2 separate regions of the Homo sapiens genome follow, and region 1 is linked to region 2. The links come from fine-mapping of genetic effects on gene expression. Tissue or cell type: coronary artery. Region 2 holds a variant in brackets; the other region holds the start of a gene. All regions are shown on one strand. Distances are between the middles of the regions.

Region 1 (8,183 bases), 360 kb before region 2:
GAGTAGGACTGCCCTTTATTCAACAGTGCCGCAGTTTGGGTCCAGGGCTTTTTCAACTCTAGAAATGGCATTGCCTCAAAAAGGCTAACTGAGGGGGCCAATATGAAGTAGGCTTGTTACAACTGTAACTGTCACTCTCTAAAACAGGGTGGCATGCCAAGCCTATTCCACAGCACCTTTGCCAGGCAGACAGAGAACACTCCTTCTCAGAGCCAATCCCCGCTCCACAGGAAGTGAGGATACAGCAAGAGCCAGGCAAGCCGCGCAGATGCCACTGGCTCTCACGCTGCAGGTCCCTCGACAGAGGCCATAAATCTTTCCCTCCGAGCACGTCCAACTTGGGGGTCCTCACAGTGCTGCTATGAACTGGCCAGTCCACTAAATGTCACAGGGAAATGGCTCTCTTGCTGCACCTCTCTGGATAGGGGCCGAGGTCGCTGCTGTTTTAGATCCTGCCAGCTTAGACTGGGTAAGGCCATGCCCAGGGCCAGTGCAATTGGGAATACTGCAGTGACTTCTGAAAAGTGTCCATCCTTCCCCGGAAGCAAAATGCAGCACCCCTAGGACATCGCCAGTGACAGCTGAGGCACATCAACAGCCAATTGCTAAAGCTGGGCCTAGTCTTTAAAAACAAAGCTTAGCTCCCCGCTTGGGTGGTCTGACTGAACTGGCTGTCTGCAGAAGTGACGGCTGGCACTGCAACTGCTAGTCTGGGGGCTTGCCCTGGAACTGTACCCATTGCCATCGAGCCATTGGGGATGACAGTTGTGTTCAAGCTATTAGGGGTCTCACCACTAGCTTGTATTTTAAAGTAGACCAAATAAAAGACAGGCAAGACAATACCAATCAGCAGCATGATGAAAACAGCATTCCACCACTGAATGCCACAATCTGCACCATCCATAGGCGTCTTCGGAGGTGCCGGGAGCAGTGGCTGATGGGAGGTGTCCATGCAGTAACTTTCATGTAGAAAGATTTCTGACTGCACTGCACGCTCAATATCCTGGTCAATCCCCTTAAAGAAGCCCATCAGTTGGCCGGCCTGGGCACCGGTGCCCGCGCCTGCTCTGTCTGCCTCTGGCAGTTCCACGGTCACTGTGGTCTCGGAAGACGGGCTCAGAAGGGGTTTCAGTTCTTTGTGGGTCTCCATCAGGATCCCATGGTTTCTCACTGGAATCTTAACAGATTTCAAAGCATATAAGTCTTGTTCTCTGATGAAGTTGTTGACTTTCTTGATATCTGCAACCTAGGAAGGCACGAAGATAAACATCATAAAATATGCGGAGCTCCTTAAAAATAACTTTCCAAAAAGTGGCTCTTAATCTTTCTGGGTGATGATTCAAGCCCACTTCACTGACGAATCTGATGAAGACTGGAAAACTGCAGCTGTACACAAAGTTAGTTTAGGCTGAAATTTTGTTTTTTTGGCTTTCACTCAACCTCAATATATAGTTTAGTAATCAGATATTCCTAAAGATTTACAGGTTTGAACAATTTAAGATCAGTTTTGAAAAACAGATCTTTCTTAAACTGTTTAAAGTGTGACTGCAACAAATCGCTTTGGGCGAAACCACCATGGCACTGAAAGGAATGTTGCAGCCTTTTCCACCTTTCACTTTTGAGGCAATAGTGCCCCCATCTGCCTGCCTTCCCCCTCATGCCAGAACTCAGTGGCTGCCAGATGTTAGCATTCACCAAACACACAGCCTCAGCCAGCTCTGCAGACACACTCAAAATCCAGTTTACCTGTAATAAAGTTGACAGATATGCCCTCGGCATTTTCTTTCCCAGAAACACTGTGGGGCATGTAAACTTATTAAATAAAAGTGACTTACAGTTACTGTACTTAACTGTCAGGAAAAAGGAATAATGCTGTGAGTTTTATCAAGTAACAAAGTTCATGACAAACTCCTCTCATAATCAAACACGAAGATTTAAGAAGCAGGGAGAATGTAAGTCAAAGGGTAACCCCTCCCTCAAACTAATGTTTGAAAACTTTCCAAAAGCATCAGAGATGAACTCCAAACTTTTAACACTTAAGTCCACTTAAACTAGAAAGTGAATACAGCCAACAGATCTCAATCAAATCAATCATTTCCATTATTATTCAGCAACTGCTGTTATTGTAACTGATTTGGGGTAGGGGACATTTTTAATTCACTATGTCCTGAATCTAATGCATGAGACCCTTGAGATCTTTCTGTCTCTGCCTTCAATAAATTAAGAGCAAATTTATTTACTTCAAATAGGAAAACTGATCACTTATCAAAGGCTTTATATATTCTTTACGGATTTAGACATCACCATACCAAGAAGCCTACTCCATCTATTCCGGTCTTTGTAGGACAGGCTTCATTTTTCAGCCCATGTTCTGTAAGCCACACAGTATGCCTGCAGAAGCTGCTTATCGGAGCCAAATATAATTGTCAGTACAATTTAAAGACCACTATGTGTCCCCGGAGACCAACCTGTTTATTTCCCTGAAAGACCGCAACACCCCACACAACATGTTTCAGACATTTGGACCTTGTTAGATAAGACACTTGTAGGAGAAAGAGATTTCTTAAATTAAGTAGCTTATATACCCCTAGAGAAGGCCATACAAATCTGTAGCACAGTGTTAGCAAAGTGAAACAGTTGCAATCTAGGAGAAAATGCAGCAATTCTAGAAATACTTTCCTACTTACTTTGCCATTGTTAATCACTCTGAATGCTGAAAACATAATTAGAGAAAAACAGGGTTATATAGATACACAGCATACAAAAGACCATGCAGTTCTAAACGAGAGAAGGTAAAACTTTACCAAAAGTCAAGTAAGCTACCACCAAGAAAGGTTCAGAAAAATAAGAGCAGCGAGAAAAGCAAGCATACCATAGAAATCCGGAATTAAATTCTGCCTGGTATCTCCAGCCCCATTAGGTCTAAAATAAAATGTGCTCGAAAGAAGAAAAAAGGTTTCAGAATTTCAGTGTGGAGAAAACAGGAAAAGGAGAAGTTCCCTGCAGAGAAAGAAATGCGCTAACCCTCCCTCTTTGGGGGCCAGGGTTGGGAACTAAAGGTACTCCCACCTGCATTCCAATTCTGGCTAAATAGGGGAGTCCTTGGCTGCTACAGCAGGCCTCTCCTGACGGCCTGGCAGGGTTAAGAAGGGCGGCAAGGGCACCCACCCTGCAGTGAGTTCCCCGTGTTCCTTGAAACGGAGCGGGGCAGGGCCCCTGAGGGGTGTCTTACTTTGCAGCCATACTGCAGCGCCAGCTTGTTGAGGCTGTCCTCCTGGGCCAGCTCCCGCTGCAGCAGCACCACGTCACCTGCTCCCGCCTGGGGAGGCTGGTGGACACCGCTCTTGTGGCGCTCCTTGCCCCGGGGCCGCAAAACCACACGGTGAGACTCTTCTTCAGAAGAGTCCCCCGAGTCCCCACTGCCATTCTTAAACATGTATACGTGGCTGGTCGGAGTCCCACACACAACAGCTGGGCCTTGGAAGGTCTTGGTTAACAATTCCTCGTGCCTCATTTTCTTCACTGAAAATCAAGCCGGAGGGTTAATTCCACAGAAGACATAATCATCCCTCCACCGCCTCGTTTAAAGAGAAGTGTCTTGTTAGAGAGTATTCCTTTTCCTAATCGCTGCAAATACTCAGCATACATCATCAACAGAAAAAAAAGAATGTGCTTATGCTGGCTGAGATGGAAGAAGATAGGCAGAATAAAAACCCTTTGTTTTTTCTAATCGCATACGTTTTGTGCAGAAAACGAACCCCGCCCCTGTTCCTCATCCATAGCTGTCTCCCCTAAACCCACATCTGTAAAGAAACAACTACTTTTGCTCTCAGAGTAGTAAGTTGAGATCCTTGCAATGGCAAGTAAGGGCTGCCGCCAGCCTCCGCGCACTCAGAATCTTCAACTCAGAAGCTTTGCACAATAATTTTGTATTCAATATTTTACACATTGCAAAGTATCTTCACTAAGAAGGTCAGCGCTAAGGACTCTTGCTCAGAACTGTGGGGCTAAACTGCTCTTACTTTGACACAGTTTAACTCACAGTATGTGGGGCAAGCTACGGGGAGAACTCATGCCTGTCAGCCGGAGAAAAGCGTCCAGTTTGCTCACGGGTCACTTTGCATTCATTACATCCCCATTGTCTGGTTTTTATTTTCCCCTTGAGTCAACAGCCAAAGCCGCAAGACCCCTGTTCCTCTCTCCAGATTGTTCGCGTGAGATTCCAGAAACGAAATCTCAAACACGCGGGCTGACAACTTCAGAAAAAGGTGGCTTCGGAGCCACAGGGGAGCAGCCCGTACGGGGACAGCCTGCGGCCCCAGCTCGACCCCCTACTCCCCGCCCACGCCTTCGAGGGTCACAGGCCCACACCCCGCTCCGCGCGCTCCTGAGCCTGCCCGGAGGCGGGAGGCGGCCGGCGGTCCTCGGGGGGTTGAGGGTCACCTGCAGGACCACGGCGGCAGCCCGGGGACGGGGCCAGCCTTCGCGTCCGAGCTCAGGGGCGGCGGCAGCAGCTCCAGGCCCGCTTCCCTCCAAGTCCCTTCTGCGAAAAGATGGGGCACCTCAACAAGAGCTGACAGGAAAATGGGGAGCGGCCCGGCCCCAGGGCTCCACGGCTCCACGGGCGGGGCCCTAACATTCCAGAGGGCAGAACCTCTGACCTCTGACCCCCAACCCTAGCCACCTGGGGCCAGCCCACGACAGTCGCGGTCACCGCCCCTCCAGCTGGAGCGTCCCCCTAGGAGCCCGGGGAGGGGCGGCCCGCCCGCGAACCCTCGAGCGAGGCCAGGTCGCCGTACCGCCATGAGCCCGCGCGGCTCCCTAGCCAGACCGCGGCCCCCTCGTCCAGGCCCCGGTACCTCAGCGCCCAGGCTCCGCCGCGACCGGCGACCGGCGACTCGCGACCCGCGACCCGCGACCCGCAGCTGCCACCGCGCCTGCGGATTGGCTACGAACATCAGCAGGGCCCCCCTGGGGGCGGGACTGGGGAGGCAGCCAATGAAGTCAGCGCTGGGCGGGCACTGGAGCGAGCCTGGCTGCGCGGAGAGCTCATCCCGGGACCACAGGGCCCGGGGCGGGGCTCGGGGCGGGGCTCGGGGCGGGGCTCGACAGGGTTCCACACCCCGGAAGTGGCCCTCGCCCCGCCCACCCGCCTACCAGGTCTACCCGCGCGGGCCCTGGCTTGTTTTCGCGTCTGTTCGGAGTAATAAGGCACCTCAGCTCCTCCCTCCCAAAGTGCTTGGCTTTCTGCTGAGCCGCAGCTTTCTCGCCCGTAAAGAGGCCTTTGACCCCACTTGTGGGTAATGATCTGTAGCTGTGACTCGGGGTGGATTCCAGTAGCGTGGGGTCCCCTGAGCCCTCCTGCGGGGAAGGGCTGGGCGCAGATGGGCGAGGGGTCTTTCTGCGGCGGGATCTGCGCTCCTGGGCCTTTGAGGGCCGCACCAGGGGAGGCATTGCCCCACCCCGAGAAGAAAACAGAAATCCACGAGTGTAAAACATGGATGCGGACAACAGGGACCAAGAAAACTTAAGTCGTGTTTATCAAATGTCAGGTGGCCGAGGATTTCTTAAGATGAAAAGTGGTGGAAGAATTCTCACACACTGGCCGGGCGCGGTGGCTCACGCCCGTAATCCCAGCACTTTGGGAGGCCGAGGCTGGTGGATCACGAGGTCAGGAGTTCGAGACCAGCCTGGCCAAGATGGTGAAACCCCGTCTCTACTAAAAAAATAAAAATAAAAAAAAATAAAAAAGTTAGCCGGGCATGGTGGCGGGCGCCTGTAATCCCAGCTACTCAGGAGGCTGAGACAGAGGATTGCTTGAACCCGGAGGCGGAGGTTGCAGTGAGCCGAGATCGTGCCACTGCACTCCAGCCTGGGCAACAGAGGGAGACTCCATCTCAAAAAAAAACAAAAACAAAAACCTCACACACTAAGGCACAAAGTTCAGAGCTTCTACTTAAAAAGGAAAACCAAAATTAAAAAGCAGATAACCTAGGGAAAATAAACTGAACACAACAAAGGATTAAAATCCTTCGCTGAGAGAGACTTCATATGAATAGGAAAGATGCTAAGACCTCAGCAGGTCTGAGGGAGACCTCAGAGAGACAGGAGCAGATAATTCAGCAAACAATGCAAATGGTCAACAGGTTGAAAATGTTTTTAACCCTCACTTGCAATCAGATTAAACAACAAAGCAAACATTAAAACAAGATCTCACAAACCTTTTCCCACTAATAGGATTTGACTGTGTCCACACCCAAAACTCATCTTGAATTGTAGCTCCCACAGTTTCCACCTGTTGTGGGAGGGACCTGGTGGGAGGTGATTGAATCATGGGAGCAGGTGTTTTCTGTGCTGTTCTCCAGATAGCGAATGAGTCTCACTAGATTTGATGGTTTTATAAAGGGAAGTTGCCCTGCACAAGTTCTTTTCTTCTATCTGCTGCCATGTGAGATGCACCTTTCACCTTCAGCCATTATTGTGAGGCCTCCCCAGCCAGGTGGAACTGTGAGTCCATTAAACCTCTTTCTTTTGCCCAGTCTCGGGTATGTGTTTATCAGCAGGATGAAAACGGACTAATACACCCACTTAAACTAAAAGTCAAATTGTTAATCTTCGTGGACAAAGCCCAAAATGGTCTGGACTCCAGGACTTACCCTCCCCTAACCCCCAGGGTTCTCAAGACTCTGGCCTTGGAATGAGAGTGACATCATCAGCTTCCCTGGTTCTGATGTTTTTGGACCTGCACTGAACCATATTATCTGCATCCCAGGGTCTCCAGCTTGCAGACCCACCTGTCCCGGGACTTTCAGTCTCCTTAATTGTGTGAGCCAAGTCTAATCTCCTCTCTCTCACTCACTCACTTTGTGTCTCTCTCTATAGGTAGAAATAGATATATAGATAGATAGACAGATATCTCCTATTGGTAGGTAGGTAGGTAGATAGATAGATAGATAGATAGATAGATAGATAGATAGATAGATTAGATAGCTCCTATCAGTTCTGTCTCTCTGGAGGACTTGACTCTGTATCTGTAGATAGGTAGATATCTCCTATCGGTTCTGTCTCTCTGGAGGACCTGACTCTGTATCTGTAGATAGATAGGTATCTCCTATTGGTTCTGTCTCTCTGGAGAACCTAATACAGGCTTCAAGGCTCCTTCTCTCAAGCTGCTTGCATTACTGGACTGTCTGAGCCTCAGGCCTCAAAGTAAGTCATCTTCTCAGTGAGTTCTCCCCTGTCCAGCGGGTATATGTAGGTGCTCCCTTAGTGCTCTGTGAGAACACGGTTTCTTCATAGTACTTCCTAGTTCATTTACTTGTCATTTATTGCCAGAATACTACTGTCCCCATACAACTTCCAAGGCCCAGCTGAGTGGCGGCGTCTAGAGGTGCTCATTCAATGTGGGCTCATTAGGAGAGCTGTTCTGATGACCTGACCCAGGATACGGGAAGGCAAACTAAAATTAAAAAGCATATTATCTGGGGAAAATAAATGCATCCCGACAAAGGATTAAAATCCTGAGTTGAGAGCACCAAAATCCAAATCCTAGTGTGTCTATTCCAGAGGCCTGGCTCTCAGCCACCAGCTGTACTTCGGGCCCAAGGCACCTGGCCATGGCCCGGTGGGTTTGGCAAATCCAGGAGTCAGAATTTCAAAGTGTGACTAATGGCAAGAAAAGTCACAACAGAATTTGTAAAGCTGGATTAGTATTGCTGCTTTCTGATCAGTTATGGTTGTTTCATTCATTCAGTGTGTCCAGTACAAAATAAATCCAGACTTAGGATAAAGTTTATTCCAAAAGATTATTGCAAGGTGGTGGGAGGGACTATTGCAATGGGGAGAACTTCTGACCATAAGCTCTGTAACATCTCAAGAGTTAGACAGAAAGTTCTCCTTTCACAGCGAAGTAACAAAGCTAGAAAGAGCACGGTATGGGGAAGCGGGATGAAAGGGTGGTGGGATCTGGTAGTAGATCAGAGAATGTTCTACCCTGGGGTCAGCCAAGTCTCAGGAAGAGCTTATGCTGGCTCAGGTTGTGGTGGAGTCAAGGTTTATTCAGTGGGCTAGGGGAAGAGAGAAGCCTAATCAAAGTTTGGTTAGCAAGCATTTTGTTCCAATTGATTACTGGGGTCAAGCAGTTTCACTAATTATTTATGAGATAAAAGGAATTTGGAGGGTCT
Region 2 (8,183 bases):
GAGGAAGTCAAATTGTCCCTGTTTGCAGATGACATGACTGTATATCTAGAAAACCCCACCATCTCAGCCCAAAATCTCCTTGAGCTGATAGGCAACTTCCGCAAAGTCTCAGGATACAAAATCAATGTACAAAAATCACAAGCATTCTTATACACCAATAACAGACAAACAGAGAGCCAAATCATGAGTGAACTCCCATTCACAATTGCTTCAAAGAGAATAAAATACCTAGGAATCCAATTTACAAGGGATGTGAAGGACCTTTTAAGGAGAACTACAAACCACTGCTCAATGAAATAAAAGAGGATACAAACAAATGGAAGAACATTCCATGCTCATGGGTAGGAAGAATCAATATTGTGAAAATGGCCATACTGCCCAAGGTAATTTATAGATTCAATGACATCTCCATCAAGCTACCAATGACTTTCTTCACAGAATTGGAAAAAACTACTTTAAAGTTCATATGGAACCAAAAAAATAGCCCGCATCGCCAAGTCAATCCTAAGCCAAAAGAACAAAGCTGGAGGCATCACACTACCTGACTTCAAACTATACTACAAGGCTACAGTAACCAAAACAGCATGGTACTGGTACCAAAACAGAGATATAGACCAATGGAACAGAACAGAGCCCTCAGAAATAATACCACACATCTACAACTATCTGATCTTTGACAAACCTGACAAAAACAAGAAATGGGGAAAGGATTCCCTATTTAATTAATGGTGCTGGAAAAACTGGCTAGCCATATGTAGAAAGCTGAAACTGGATCCCTTCCTTACACCTTATACAAAAATTAATTCAAGATGGATTAAAAACTTACATGTGAGACCTAAACCAGAAAAACCCTAGAAGAAAACCTAGTCATTACCATTCAGGACATAGGCATGGGCAAGGACTTCATGTCTAAAACACCAAAAGCAATGGCAACAAAAGCCAAAATTGACAAATGGGATCTAATTCAACTGAAGAGCTTCTGCACAGCAAAAGAAACTACCATCAGAGTGAACAGGCAACCTACAGAATGAGAGAAAATTTTTGCAATCTACTCATCTGACAAAAGGCTAATATCCAGAATCTACAATGAACTCAAACAAATCTACAAGAAAAAAACAACCCCATCAAAAAGTGGGCAAAGGATATGAACAGACACTTCTCAAAAGAAGACATTTATGCAGCCAAAAAACACATGAAAAAATGCTCATCATCACTGGCCATCAGAGAAATGCAAATCAAAACCATAATGAGATACCATCTCACACCAGTTAGAATGGCAATCATTAAGTCAGGAAACAACAGGTGCTGGAGAGGATGTGGAGAAATAGAACACTTTTACACTGTTGGTGGGATTGTAAACTAGTTCAACCATTGTGGAAGACAGTGTGGCGATTCCTCAGGGATCTAGAACTAGAAATAACATTTGACCCAGCAATCCCATTACTGGGTATATACCCAAAGGATTATAAATCATGCTGCTATAAAGACACATGCACACATATGTTTATTGTGGCACTATTCACAATAGCAAAGACTTGGAACCAACCCAAATGTCCAACAGTGATTGACTGGATTAAGAAAATGTGGCACATATACACCATGGAATACTATGCAGCCATAAAAAATGATGAGTTCATGTCCTTTGTAGGGACATGGATGAAGCTGGAAACCATCATTCTCAACAAACTATCACAAGGACAAAAAACCAAACACCGCATGTTCTCACTCAAAGGTGGGAATTGAACAATGAGAACACATGGACACAGGAAGGGGAACATCACACACTGGGGACTGTTGTGGGGTTGGGGGAGGGGGGAGGGATAGCATTAGGAGATATACCTAATGTTAAATGACGAGTTAATGGGTGCAGCACACCAAGATGGCACTTGTATACATATGTAACAAACCTGCCTGTTGTGCACATGTACCCTAGAACTTAAAAGTATAATAATAAAATTAAAAAAAAAAAAAACAAAATAAAATTCAGAAATAAATTGGAAAAAAAATTGTGTTTGCTCTAGGATTCCTTCTCTACTGAAAAATTCTGGCCACAAGAAAACCAGCTTTTAGGATTGTGGCACAAAATATTCTACAGCAAATCTCTCTTAGAGAAATCCATTCCTTCTGGGGAGTTTCAACTGTGATTGGATTCCAGGCATATGGAATCCAAGGCAGTAAAATGTCAAAAACTGAGATAAAAGTTGTTCGGGGTCAAAGTGATTAGAATCTTTTTCAGAGGAATCTCCACTCAAACTACCAAACATACCTGCAAACAAGATCCGCTTGTGGGGGATGAGCTGTTCTTGAAGGAAGCTGCTGTTGTATGGAAACTTTTGCAACTAACAAACCTTGGCATTGGGATCACCGATCTGCAGAATCCGACAGAGCTGATGGGGCCCTGATCAATTCCTTTCCCTCATTCCACAGCAAGGTCCCTGTGCAGCTGATGCATGGTATCCACATCTATTCTTAAGCTTAACTTTGCCACAGGATGCATCAGTGAAAAGACATCCGTTTTCTGTCTTTTCTCATGTGCCCCTGGTGGAGGTGCTGATGAAAGGCAGTTCAGGGCGGACTCGGTACCCAAGTGAGCCCACCCTCAGGTGACCTCTCAACGCAGGGCAGTCCTTATGCATGCGCTCTGCTAACCGTCCTACGACAAGTTTCTCTGTTCATGATAAAAAGGAAACCAGCTGGGCGCAGTGGCTCACGCCTGTAATTCCAGCACTTTGGGAGGCTGAGGCGGGTGGATCATGAGGTCAGGAGTTCAAGACTAGCCTGAACGACACGGTGAAACCCCATCTCTACTAAATAATACAAAAAATTAGCCAGGTTTGGTGGTGCATGCCAGTAATCTCAGCTACTCAGGAGGCTGAGGCGGGGGAATAGCTTGAACCCGGGAGGCGGAGGTTGCAATGAGCCGAGATCGTGCCACTGCATTCCAGCCTGGGAGGCAGAGTGAGACTCCGTCTCAACAAAAAAAAAAAAAAAAAAGGGTAACCAATGAAAAAGACAGTCCCTGAACTGAAAGGCAGGCCCTCTGTCCACAAACCGGGGAAACTGCCTCGAGCTCACAGTCCTCCAACCCCTGCTCTGACCCAGAGCTCAAAGTCCACCTGAGGCAGGTGTGAAGAGCCACCAAGAAGGGAAAGAGTACCACCACCAAGTCCCAAAGCACCCTGGCGTCTCTCAGGCCAGATACCCCCGATGTGGATGCCAGATACCACCACACTGCCGAAGCATGAAGAATAATTATGAGGTAGGATTTACTCTCAGAATTTACAAGGTAGATTCACATTTTAGGTAAGGCTTTATCTTTGGAGTGATTTCCCATTCCAGCTTCAGCCACCAAGCAGGAGAAATCCAGTTACAGGAACATGATTTGGTTTCATGAGGAAGCCATGGATAAAATCCAATGCCTTTGCCGTGGTTCCAGGAGAACATGCCATTTCTGCCCTAAGGACCAGCAGTAAGAAGGAACTTCAAAGTGATGTTGACCTTTAACCTGTCTCAAATCTTCCAGAGTTACTATTACTAGGCTATGAGCAATTTCCCTGTGAAGTCATTTGTGTCTGAATTTCTCAAGTAGACTTGCTGTGAGATGTCTTGGGGCTCCCATTTTTCCTCATGTTTTCAGGAGCATTAACCATCTTTGGAAGAAAACCATCGGACTGAAAAGGTACCATGATGGACTAGAGGTAAAACTCTGGCTACGTGTACTTGGACTCTTTCCCCTGAAATCAGAGTTCTTTTTTTTTGTTTAGTAAATAGATCATAAAATATTTGGAGAGGCATTTGTTTTATTTTTCTCTTCTTACAAAAGTTATTCACAAGAATATTACTATCTTACGTTTCTCCCTAATGGTGGTTCCTGGGTCTAATGGAAAAGAACTCATTGTTTGGGAAACCCGTGAGGCTAGACTGTGCCTTGGTTCGCCCCTCAGAATGGGAGGTCAGTGTAGACAAACGAAGACCAGAAGGGTGTTACCAAATGCCCCTCTGCCTGTAGGGACACCAGTCCTGAAATATGAAAACTTTTCTATGGAAGAAGGTGCCAGCGAAGGCTAAATTCTCTGGCATGTCTAGGTATTTTCTGCCAGAGCACACGGTGTGCTTGAGGGGAAAGAAAACTTACCC[C/T]CAGCAGGCTAGGGTACGTTTCCATTTGACTCTGTCTTTTATAGCTTTAAAATTGGTTTCATCTTACAGTTTTTCTGATGGTAATCAGTCTTCAACGTCAGTTTATGTAAGCATTTAATGGCCTCTGAGTTTATCCATGGCTTCGCACACAACTTACTCCCATTGATTCTATTCAGAAAACACTCAGACGCGTGAGCCAGGCAAGAGCCACACCAAGCATGTCACTGCTGGGACGACACGTAACATCCAGCATCTTACATGAGAAACACTTGGGAACAGCCTCTGCCATCACACATGTGGATACCTTCGTACAGAGATCATTCTTAACTGAGAAAAAGAAATACGTTGTAATTGGTTTATGTGCACATTTTACGATTCTTCATCACAGTGTAAAGAAGCCTCATTTTGTACCATAAGCCCCAACAGTGAATTTCCGCCCCCACGAGATTCCACACCCCACACTACACAGAGCATGGAACCTGGCATGTGGCAGGGGCTCTAGAGGTAATTACTGAACAAATATGTGACACATGGATCTATCCACATTCAAAAGGGATCCTCACCCCACCCTTTCTTTTAAGGATTACGTGAAAAGGTTCTCGCAAGAACACAAAGCAAAGGGATCCGAAGCCCACAGGTATCCTTGGCTGGTTCTCAGTGAGGACTTCAGTCCAGGTGTGTCCTGGCTGTCCATGGGCTGGTCACCTGGAGACTGACCAGCCACCTTTTTAGTGCCAAGGAGCAGGGCGGAATAAAGATAATATTGTTAAAATGGCAATTTAATGAAATGAAAGCATCATACTCAAATTACTAGGTTCAGATAACTCAGCTGTCTTGAGCCAGCCCAAGGCATGAGCATTTTGAAGCCCATCCATCAGAAAAGCAATATGATAGCCAAGTTGAGTTGATTCCTTCCATAGATAAGTAGCTGAGGACCTCATTTGTTCAAAGTTTGGAAGCAACAGGCTGGAGGGCGATAAACGCCCTACACTCAGGATGCCACTTCCCCTGGTGCCACACTGGGACCTGTCATGACAGAGAGGGAGATTTGGCTCTGCTGGGCTGGACACTTCGCCACGTGTGGGTCTGCCCTGGATTCTCAGCTCAGGAACTTTGGTAAGAGGACCCACAGGAGTTCAGGCAGGGGTCAGGACTTCACAAAATTGGGCAAAAATCCAGCATTTGATTCCGCTTTATCTTTCTGGTGTGGAGTTTCTCTTTGATATTCACCGTTAAGGGTGATAAGGCACTCCTCCTTCCCTCATTCTTTAGGGGCAAGCAGAGATGAAAGTCAGCTTCCTATCTAAACTGATAGGCCTGGTGAATCCACCCACTCAGCTGCACTTGGCGTCACCAAGATGCCTCTTGACCTGGGGGCTTTCTACGATTTCCATGCTGGGTCTCGCAAGGATATGTTTCCCCTTCAGCCTGAAGTGTCCTCCCCCTACCCCCACTATCAGCTGATTTCTACTTGTCCTTTAGTGCTGGGGGCCACCCTCAGCTTTTGGAGGCCTAGGTCTGGTGCCCCACCAGAACCTGGGGTCTCACAACACGCCTGCTGGGCTGCCTCCACCTCATGCTCACATAGGCTGATGCTGTCTGTTTGCCCGGGGGTCCCCTCCCTCGACTGTACCTGGGGTGGGGACAATAACTTATTTCTGTATACCTAGCGGTTAAAATGTAGTCATGCTGCATAAATAACCATTGCGTGATTGGGCTTGGGGGTAACCATTTGTATCTCTAAAGTGCATTCCAGTATGTCAGACCATGATGACAAGTTTGTGCTGAATGAAACTATACTAGATAGGCAGCCAGTGACTCATTCTTGTGCAAATGAGTACTGCAGGCAGATTTTCAATATATACAATCCACATGGATGTGGGCTCGTGGTCACAGACTCCAGCTGTGAGGATTTGAAAAACAAAAAACTGCTGTGTACCTTAAAATGAATGTGTGACAATTGGCAATCACTCAGAATGACAGTCCAGGTAGGTGAAGCGAACGTGTGCTTATTTTTGCCTGAAGGTTTGCTGAGGCTTCTGTGCCTTGGCAGCTGGAAGGACACACACTAGGCTGCAAGCCAGGGTGGGAGCAGCTACCCAAGGAGGCTTCCAGTATGGTCCATCCTTCCATGGGGGACTCACTGTCATGGCCACAGGGGTCTGACCTCACATTCCAGACAGGGATGTGGCCCAGGCCGGAGTGGATGGAGAAGGGAAAGGGGTGAGCAGGAGAGGAGGACATTACTGTGGCCAGATGAACAGGTCTGCCTAGGTCAAATCAAGGGCTGGTATACAGATCAGAGTCTGGGTAAAGGAAGACCACTTTTGACCTTAATCTGGGTTATCTCAGAAGTGAGATCCTATGTTAGTTAGATGTGTGGTAGAACTTTCCTTAGTGTTCTACATACAGAGTTGCCCAGGGTTGGCGATGGGAGTGGGCCTGGCTGTACCTGACTTGTCTTCTACAGAATCACGCACTTGTAGTCAGTTCTCTTTATGGGAGCTCAGTACAATGTTCAATTTAATAAACAAAGGGTTCCAATGCTTCCATTAAAAAAGAAAAGCCAACAGTAAGTAGTAATCCTTTACCAACTGCAGGAGTTTTGCTCCTAAATGTTGCCTCAGCAGCAATAGGCAAGGTCAAATTCTCATGGGAGCCCAGGAGCTGGGGTACCAATAGAGAAAATGGCATTAAGTATGTCAAAACCAGTAGCAGAAATGGGCAACGCTCTGGAGCTGTGCTGTCCAATAGAACCTTCTGGAATGCTGGGAATATTGTCTGCCTGTGCTGCCCAACACAGGAGCCGCTGGCCGTGTGCAGCAACGGAGTACTCAAAATTTTCCCAGTGAGATGGAAAGATGAACTTTTAAGTTGGTTTCATTTTAATGAATTACAGTTTGGATCGTCTCCAGGGGCCAGTGGCTGCTGAACTGGACAGTGTAGCTACGGAGGCCACTTTCCCCCAAACCAACCTGCTCCTGCCTCTCCTTTCTCTGTTGACCTCAGGAGCCACGTGGCAGGCACAGCTTCTCACACTAAGCTCCGTGCCTCACTGACTAGGTACCCATCTTTAAAATCCACCTGAAATTTCATTTTTAAGTTTCATTTTGCATTTGCATTTCCTCTGGTTTTGCTTTCACAGGGTCCTGCAAAATGTTGGCGCAGTAGGCTGTCTTTCCCGCAGGCATCTAGAAGGAACGTTTCTTCCAGACCAGGTTTCCTATCCACACAGAGAAAAGTGGAGAGGAGAGCATGCCTCACCTTACGGGGCTGTTCTGTGAGACAGGGAGGCATAAATGTGCTTCTGTTCTCTTGTTGGGGGAAAATGAACTGAGAAGCTTCTATGCAGAGCAACTTGTGGAAATTAAAATAAGTTTCTCAGCTTCTTCCTCCCAACACAAGTTCTCCTGGTGATGGGGGGTGAGTGCACACTCGCTAAGGCTGCCAGAGCTCCCTCTCCAGCTGGCTTGCCTGCCTCGTGCTCCCCTCACTAGGTGTCAACTACAGACGCTTTCTTAAACATTGTCCTCCAGGACAGGAGATCAGAAAGTTGTGTCCCATGTAAGACAAAGCAGCCTGCAGCTGCAAAAACCATGCAAGCAGAAAGATGAAGCCGGCCCATCAACCGAATCCTGGCATCCCTCTCTAGGGACAGTGCTAAGGAATGTCTGCCCCTGGGGACCAGGAGGCTCAGGTACTCCGGAGTCACAGCTGGCAGTGGCACCTGAGACCTTCCAGACTGTACGGCTTCATGCACGTTTTAGAAATGTGTTATCCTACTTTTACTAACAGAAAATTCAAACACAGAGCAAACGTCTTCCATCGACAGGTAAAATGATTTGGCAGGTGTCTCTCCCACCTTCTCTGCCTGTGCATCAGAAGGCGAGATGCCAGGAAGTGCTGAGCTCCTGGCCCAGGGCAGCTACCAGTGATTCATGGACCTCAGGCTAAGTGGGGAGCTGTTTCCGTTCATGGCAAACTATTCACTACTAGCAACGTGAAGGCATCATTCTTGCTAAAATGTCCTTTCTTGCTTTTCAGAA

What was found. PIP is the estimated chance that this variant, and not a neighbour inherited with it, causes the effect.
Region 1: it holds the start of LYSMD4, and the variant in region 2 is fine-mapped to the expression of LYSMD4 in coronary artery (GTEx, PIP 0.98).

Annotation. Positions count from the first base shown.
Region 1 is chr15:99,728,486-99,736,668 of GRCh38, forward strand. It overlaps LYSMD4 (LysM domain containing 4), which reads right to left and starts at 4,952. Exons shown (of 3, transcript NM_001284417.2): 1 at 4,860-4,952; 2 at 3,233-3,522; 3 at 1-1,246. The coding sequence starts at 3,514. The coding sequence ends at 638. RefSeq lists silencers at 4,402-4,511, 4,552-5,281.
Region 2 is chr15:100,088,035-100,096,217 of GRCh38, forward strand. All of the region lies in intron 15 of ADAMTS17 (ADAM metallopeptidase with thrombospondin type 1 motif 17), which reads right to left. Among named protein-coding and RNA genes, the nearest start is that of ADAMTS17, 250 kb to the right of the region's middle. The variant C/T (reference allele first, on the strand shown) is at 4,138.